Linked DNA regions of Homo sapiens. The protein of the gene in region 2 interacts with the protein of the main gene of each other region in a pairwise test. Each region holds a gene or a part of one and is shown on either strand. Other genes may lie near its edges. The genes, in order: ZSCAN29 and SEC22C.

Region 1 (3,369 bases), on a different chromosome or scaffold from region 2:
TCAATAAATGTATTGTTTAGAAAGTCTTCCAATAGTGAGATTCATCTACTATTCTGTGTCCAGTTAGCTTAGGAAATTCACTTTAGGATTTATGCCACTGTTTGTTCCTTGTTTTTCCTGATCTAGACTCAAATCCCCAAGGCAGTCTAAAGAATGAAAGGAAGATTTCAGTCCCTCTCTTTGCCTGCATCTGAATTGATGGATAACATCTTTTCCCTCTCAGTGCCTATGGTGTTCCCTTAATATAAGCACAGAGGACAAGGTAATAGATCCTATGAATTTGATAAGCATCCTTCTTTACTCATTCTGTCATTCAGCTGCATTTTGACAGGAAAAACCCATTACATTTCGAGAAGAAGTTATGAGACTTTGCCCATTAGGTGGGTCTAGCTCTTTTTTTTTTTTTTGGAGACGGAGTTTTGCTCTTGTTGCCCAGGCTGGAGTGCAATGGCACGATCTCAGCTCACTGCAACCTCTGCTTCCCGGGTTCAAGTGATTCTCCTGCCTCAGCCTCCCAAGTGGCTGGAATTACAAGCATGCGCCACCATGCCCAGCTAATTTTATATTTTTAGTAGAGATGGGGTTTCTCCATGTTGGGCAGGCTGGTCTCAAACTCCCGACCTCAGGTGATCTGCCTGCCTCGGCCTCCCAAAGTGCTGGGATTACAGGCATGAGCCACTGCGCCGGGCTTTTTTTTTTCGAGATGGAGTCTCACTCTGTCGTCCAGGCTGGAGTGCAGTGGCATGATCTCAGCTCACTGCAACCTCTGCCTTCTGGGTTCAAACAATTTTCCTGCCTCAGCCTCCTGAGTAGCTGGGATTACAGCCACCTGCCACCATACCAGGCTAAATTTTGCATTTTTAGTAGAGATGGGGTTTCACCATGTTGGCCAGGCTGGTTTTGAATTGACCTCATGATCTGCCTGCCTAGGTCTCCCAAAGTGCTGGGATTACAGGTGTGAGCCACTGCACCCGGCCCAGCTCTTCTTTATACAATAATGGAAATGCTAAAATGAATGACTCTTCCTGCTCACTTAAACCTGTGCTCAAAATGACATATTTGTCAGGCACCCTCTTCATTTACCTTAAAGAAGGAGAGTTTAATGTCCATCTTGGTTCTGCCCTATGAATCATCTTGTCAAGAACAGGTGTTCTTATGCAGAAACAATGAAAACCTTATACTGAAGTGTGAACCCTGGATTTCTTAGTTTCTTCTGAGTCCTAGAAGAAGGGTTGGAATAGAATAATACATTTACAGGATTTAGGTTGGTTTTCTTTCTGTCCAGTCTCATCTGAATTTCGTCTGTCTCTTGTGGTCCAGAAGTTCCACAGAGCAACGCAGCTGCATGTGGTGACAGGTAGAGCAGTTAAAGCTGCCAATAGGAACTCGTCCATATTCCACACACCTGGTATAGTGTTATGCCCTCCATGGGCACTTACCTGCAATAAGCAGAAGCCACTGCCACATTCCCGTGTATTGGGAAAATGGACTACTGTGTGCGAACAGGCCCTTTACCCTAATGGCAGGGAAGATGGATTATCTTTGGCCAGTGGAGCTGCCAATCTAGACATACACATTCAACTGAATACAATTAAAAGCAGTTCTTTAAATGCAAATATAATTACTCATCTTTATAATACAATAGTATTAACTGCCCATATGCTCATAGTATGATGAGCCCTGTATAGCACAAGGTCAACAGGTCCTCTCCTTGTCCTTACAATCTAAAGCAGATGACACTGACATGGACAAACAAGTGCACATGCATAGTTGCGGCAGTTTTAGAGAAATCTAGAAAGCTAGGTAGCAACACTATGCATAAATGTTGTGGTCCAATGCATTAGTTTGCTTTAACAAAAATCTGGGAGGTATTTTTTCTCTTTATTCAGGAAGGCTTCATGAAGCAGGAAGTGGTCAAAGGAGGGAAGGTTACTGGTTAAATTATGATAGGAAGAACTTTCCATAACTAGTTGCAAAATTGAGTGCTGGGTGGGTTGAGGAATGGGAAAAAGGGGGAGCAAGGTGTTTTGTGTAGATGGAACAAAGGGCAAAGGATAGACTGTAAGGAAGGCCAGATAAAGCTTGGAGTAGCATGAGAACTTGAGGAATAGTATGATATGGGCTGTGCAGCAGGCAGAGAGAATCACCTTAGCTGAAACATGGGTGTTAGGAGCAGACCATGAGGTGGTAGAACCATCATCTATAGTAAATCAGGTACTACGCTATAACTATTGATAAGGAAACAGCTGACTGCCACTGAAAGAATAAGCAGTTTTAGGGGACTAGCTCCTATGGGAGATAAAGGTCAGAAATCGTAGTATCTGATGAAGATATTTTGATGAGCAGGTGAGAAGAAAGATAAACATGGCCAGATGGCCAAGGACTGGGATAAGTAGCCGTTTCACATTCAATTAGAATTCTGTGGCTGGAATAAGATCAGGGAGAGCAGTAGGAAGATATAGTATTCTATAATTCATAGCTTGTTGTGTTAGAGATTAATTAGGATTCTGCTGTTGAATCTTAGTACAAAAAAATCTAATATTTATTAGGAATTAAGGGAAGATGGTACTTCTGTTATGTTGCCTAAGCAGACAGGAAGCTACAAGAAACACCAGTCTGAAGCAGTGCCTCAGGATCTCAGATGATTTAGGAAGTGTGCTGTAATGTCAAAAAAAAAAAAAAGTATTGTCTTTAGTATATCTATGTATAGTCTCGTGGGAAAAGCATTGGTTGTGGTATCAACAGATATTCTGGTTCCAGATGTCTTGTAAGTTAACCTGCCTCCATTTCCCTTTCTGTAAAGCAAAATAATGTTTACACCTAATCTGTCTCTCAGGGATACCATATTAATAAAAATCATGTCTATAAAGTGCCTGGTGTTTCTTGAAGTGTTTATGTGTGTGTGTGTATATATATACACAAATTACGATCAAGTTATGGAGGGCAGGAAAAGACCAATCTTTCTTTTTTTAACTCCTTGTGTGGGTTTACTAGAAGTATGCTTATCTGAATCTTTATATTCTAGAAAGAGGAATAAGTCAGATTGTGGTAAAAGGGAAATTAGAATGCAAATCCTTCCTTTGTACCTCTATCCATATCCACAATAAATTAGGACCCAAGATAACTGGGCATGCAGAGTCTTATTTTTTAAATTTTTATTTATTTTTTAGAGATAGGATCTCACTCTGTTGCCCAGGCTGGAGTGCAGTGGTGCCATCATAGGTCACTGCAGCTTCAAATTCCTGGGCTCAAGTGATCCCCAGCCTCCCCAATAGATGAGACTACAGGCATGAGCCACTATACTCAGCTAATTTTTTAAAGTTTTGTATTGATGAGGGGTCTACGTTGTCCAGGCTGGTCTTGAACTCC
Region 2 (4,024 bases):
CCTGGCATAGAAGGAACATCTTTTATTCTTTGTGGGTATTGCCAAGTGGGGGACAGCCACTTGTTTCCTCCTCAGGGGAAACAGAGCTCCAAACTTTACTGTCACTGGCTCCCTAGAACAAGCCTCAGCTTCTCAACCTGAGCAAAAAAGTGGTTAAAGCAGATGGTGTCTGAAAACTATCAACTACCAAATCCCAGCACCCAATAACTCAGATGTTTATTTTGGAAGTCACTGCCTTCCTCCAAAAGATTCTGATTCAGGACAGATGGTGCAGAGACTCTTGGAGAGTGAATTCCCCAATGTGTTTAGAGGATGGTCAGGAGAGGATAGTGCATTTGCTTTCTTTCTGGGAATTTTATTAGCTGCTATAGGAACAGCCTTTGCTAAAGGCCACCTTCCCTTGGCTGGAAACCTGAGGAGGTGGCCGGCAGCTGCGCCCCCTGGTGGCCATTCTGTGGTCAGGCTGGTCCTGGGAGATGAAACTTCACCTTCACAGTAGACAAGAGCCCAAAACGCGGAGCACGGAAAGTGCCTGCTGCACATAGCAGGGCAGGGGCAGAGCCTGCAAACTGGGGAGGCCTCCCAGCCCCCAGGGCATTGTTGTGACTGCTATTTTGGTTGGGGGTTAGTACTAAAGACTATTTGAGCCCTTGCGCCTGTCTAGGCCTCACTGGACAAGATGACCTGACTTTCACTTCTTTCAACAACCCCCTCCCATTATGTCAGGCCCACATCACACTGTCTAGCAAAGGATCCATAACTCGGAATTTTTCACATAAGTGCAAAGACACATGTTAATAAACACTTTAGATTTATTCTGCCATTTCTGAAGCCACCTCATTTAATTTATACATAGGATATAAATGGCTATACATTTTTACACACTTTTATACAAGTTTAGGTTGTACTACTGAGTTTGTTAAAATGTACCCATTATTTACTCAAAATATTTATTGTTACAAGAAAACCGTAAGAAGCTTGTGTAACATGAACAGCAAGTATTGAAAACGAATATGTAAAGTAAATGGTTTTGCCCTGACTAAATCAGCCTCAGTATTTTATGCTTTTAGTAGAAAAGCCCATTAAACAAAATAGAATCCTGGGGGATCAAATCATATGAATGATTCATGAAATAACACTTCTGAAGCAACCCCAGAATCATATAAATGTAAGGGTTAAAGGTCATATGTACTAAGCATGGGTCAGAGGAATAGAATGGATTTGTTAATTTTACCCTAAATAAAAGGCGCTTGTGGGCAACAGCTCTGCCATCAATACACATGGGCAGATGTTTCCGAATCCAGCCATTCCCAGATTTCACTGACATGCCCTTTTCCACAGGCTCCCTGCTGATGAGATTTCCCCAGCAGCAGAAGTTTGACATCACTGCTCCCGGATGGGAGAATCAGAGCTCTCCTCATTTGGGTCAGGGGTGGCTGGCTCACGAGGTTTGGTCCAACCAGCAGAACCAGCTCCTTGGATCCTGGAATAAACCAAACATCAATGGTACCATGCGCTCTGTGCCCAGGGAGTGAAAGGCAGGTCCAGGGTGGGAAGAAGAGGGGCTGCTACCTTTTGGAGTGAAAAAAATGAGGTTTACACTGTAGTATAACAAAATGCCTTTTTGTAAAGGCCAGAAGAAATGGCTGTGCTGTGCTGCCTGAAGCAGAAAAACCTTCATGTACCAGGTGAATGTAAAGCCTTTCTCCTCCCACACACAATGGACTCACCCAGTATTACCCTCCACTACCACTTTTGACCCTCATAACAGCACCCTGGCGGGGGGGCAGATTGATGTTATCACCATTTACCAGATGAGGAAACTGAGGCCTGATGGGCAGTGATTTGTGCACTGCGACATAGGACTCAGTGAAGAGCCTAGCCAGCTGACGGTCAGCTGACTGGTGCACTCTTTCCCTCACCTTCTCTCTCAAGGGCACAGCTACACTCTTTCTCCACCATTATTAACACTCACAGGGCACAGGTAGAGCGTCCCCAGACCTGTGCAATATTCTACACGAAAACATTTGGAATGTGAGCAATGTCTGAACAGGGGCTTGCCAGGCACATCTGATCACCATAAATGCTCCCACCCCTGCCTGTCCTCACTTGTGCTGCACTATGCAAGCAAGCAGCAGGTTCTCAGAAGGCCACTGTCCTGCATGTCACAATGAGTGGCCAACTCCTTCACAGAACAGCAAATAGCAGCCCTGGCTACAAGGTGCAGTGTGCAACCCCCATATGCCAAGGGGCAGCTGCTATCTTCCAGCAGAGAGAGAACCCCCAGCTCTGCTCCCTACCTATGCCCTGCTTCCTGTGCCTCACACAGCCAGCCTTGCTGGCCTGCTGGCTATTGTCTCTGACTCTGAGCTGTGCTGACCACCAAGTGTTACTCCTCTCCAAGACTTGACTCCCAGGCATGGGTGGGAGAGTTGAACCTCAATGCAATCTGCTCCCACTCTGAAGCTCGTCTACCCACCCCATTTGTTACAATTAAAGATGGTTTTCTCATCCCTCCAGAGACTCCAGTTTCAGACTCTGTCTCCAGAGCTGGAATGTATAGGGCAGAGGTAGAAAGAGGCAGGAGAGTTGGAGAACAAGAGCACCTAGAAAAGAACAGAGGAGCTCAAGCTCATTTAATCAAAATGCTTAAATGTTTTAATTCCAGCATTCTCCAGAGTTCACAGAAAAGAGGGATGCAAGCCCAAAAAGCAAAAGCAGGAGCTTATGGTCACATGCCTCCAGCTGCAGGCAGTGGGGCCTCTGGTACTGAGAGGGAATGCCACCCGAATATGCCCCAGCTGTCTCCACCCAGGAAAAGGAAAGCCAGGTACACTTCTCATCACAGTAAGACTAGCCTAACAGGGGAAAACAGATTTACATGTTTCGTTCATTAGCATATTAGGGAAGGGGAAACCTTTTGGGCTCTGGCCCCGTGGTTGGGAAACCCTTCCTAAGAGCATGGAGCCACACTCTGGCCTTGATACAGTAGATGGGACTTAACACACTCTGATGCTCAAGGCCTTGCAGCATCTGATACCAGAAGGCACCTCTAAAGTTTTGTTTTCAACATTATTTCATCTATTCCCAGATCTAGTCCAGTGATGTCAGCTGCACAGGTAGCATTTAACTACTGGGAAAACAAAAGTGCTACAACAACAGTGAGTCCATGGTGGAGTGAGGATAACTCCTGGGATTTGGAACCAGTTTGCTGGTATCAAGGATCACACAAGAGGCTATAAACCTCCAACCCTGAACCAAGTCAAACCTAAGCCTGGGGATTTCCCTCGGATGAAATCACCAGAACTTCTTTCCTATTTTCAGTCTCTTCCTTCAGTGAGCTGAGGATTCTTTTAGCTAGCTGGATTTCAGTCAAACAATGTTTTTGTGGTCATTACTTGTACTGTTTTTCTAGTGCATCTTTTCCCTTTTGTTTGCAAAAGTCAATCTCACCCCATGTAGATGTTAACTGATATCCACACATTCGACCTGGTGTGGATAACATCTCTGGTAGTGCCTCGGTGGTCAGGAAGCATTACCAGGAAGGACTCATCTTCAAGGACCGTTTCTTTACTGCCTGCTGAATATGGATCATAGGCTCAGATGCCCAAAGCACCTGGGGTACAGGTCTACATGGCAACCCAATGCCACATAGGAAAAGAAAACAGTCCATTTTTAAGCCGTTCTTACCGACTTTTTTTTTTTTTTTTTTTGAGACGGAGTCTTGCTTTGTCACCAGGCTGGAGTGCAGTGGCTCGATCTCGGCTCACTGCAACCTCCACCTCCCGGGTTCAAGAGATTCTCCTGCCTCAGCCTCCTGAGTAGCTGGGGCTACAGGCACAAGCCACCGTGCCCAGCTAATTTTTGTATTTTTAGTAGAGATGGGGTTTCACCATGTTAGCCAGGATGGTCTCGATCTCTTGACCTCGTGATCTGCCCACCTCAGCTTCCCAAAGTGTTATTGACTTTTAAAGCTTTTTTGTTCTTCTCATTTAAAACATTTTACCTCCCCTCCTTAACTTCC

The links.
Region 1: the proteins of SEC22C (region 2) and ZSCAN29 interact in binary tests that used the Homo sapiens proteins (3 or more experiments, as listed by UniProt).

The regions. Positions count from the first base shown.
Region 1 is NC_000015.10:43,357,675-43,361,043, reverse strand, and holds the end of ZSCAN29 (zinc finger and SCAN domain-containing protein 29), read left to right. Parts: 3' UTR 1-2,869; downstream 2,870-3,369. UniProt on the Homo sapiens protein: May be involved in transcriptional regulation.
Region 2 is NC_000003.12:42,547,175-42,551,198, forward strand, and holds the end of SEC22C (vesicle-trafficking protein SEC22c), read right to left. Parts: 3' UTR 1,484-4,024; coding exon of another isoform or gene 1,442-1,483; 3' UTR 795-1,441; downstream 1-794. UniProt on the Homo sapiens protein: May be involved in vesicle transport between the ER and the Golgi complex.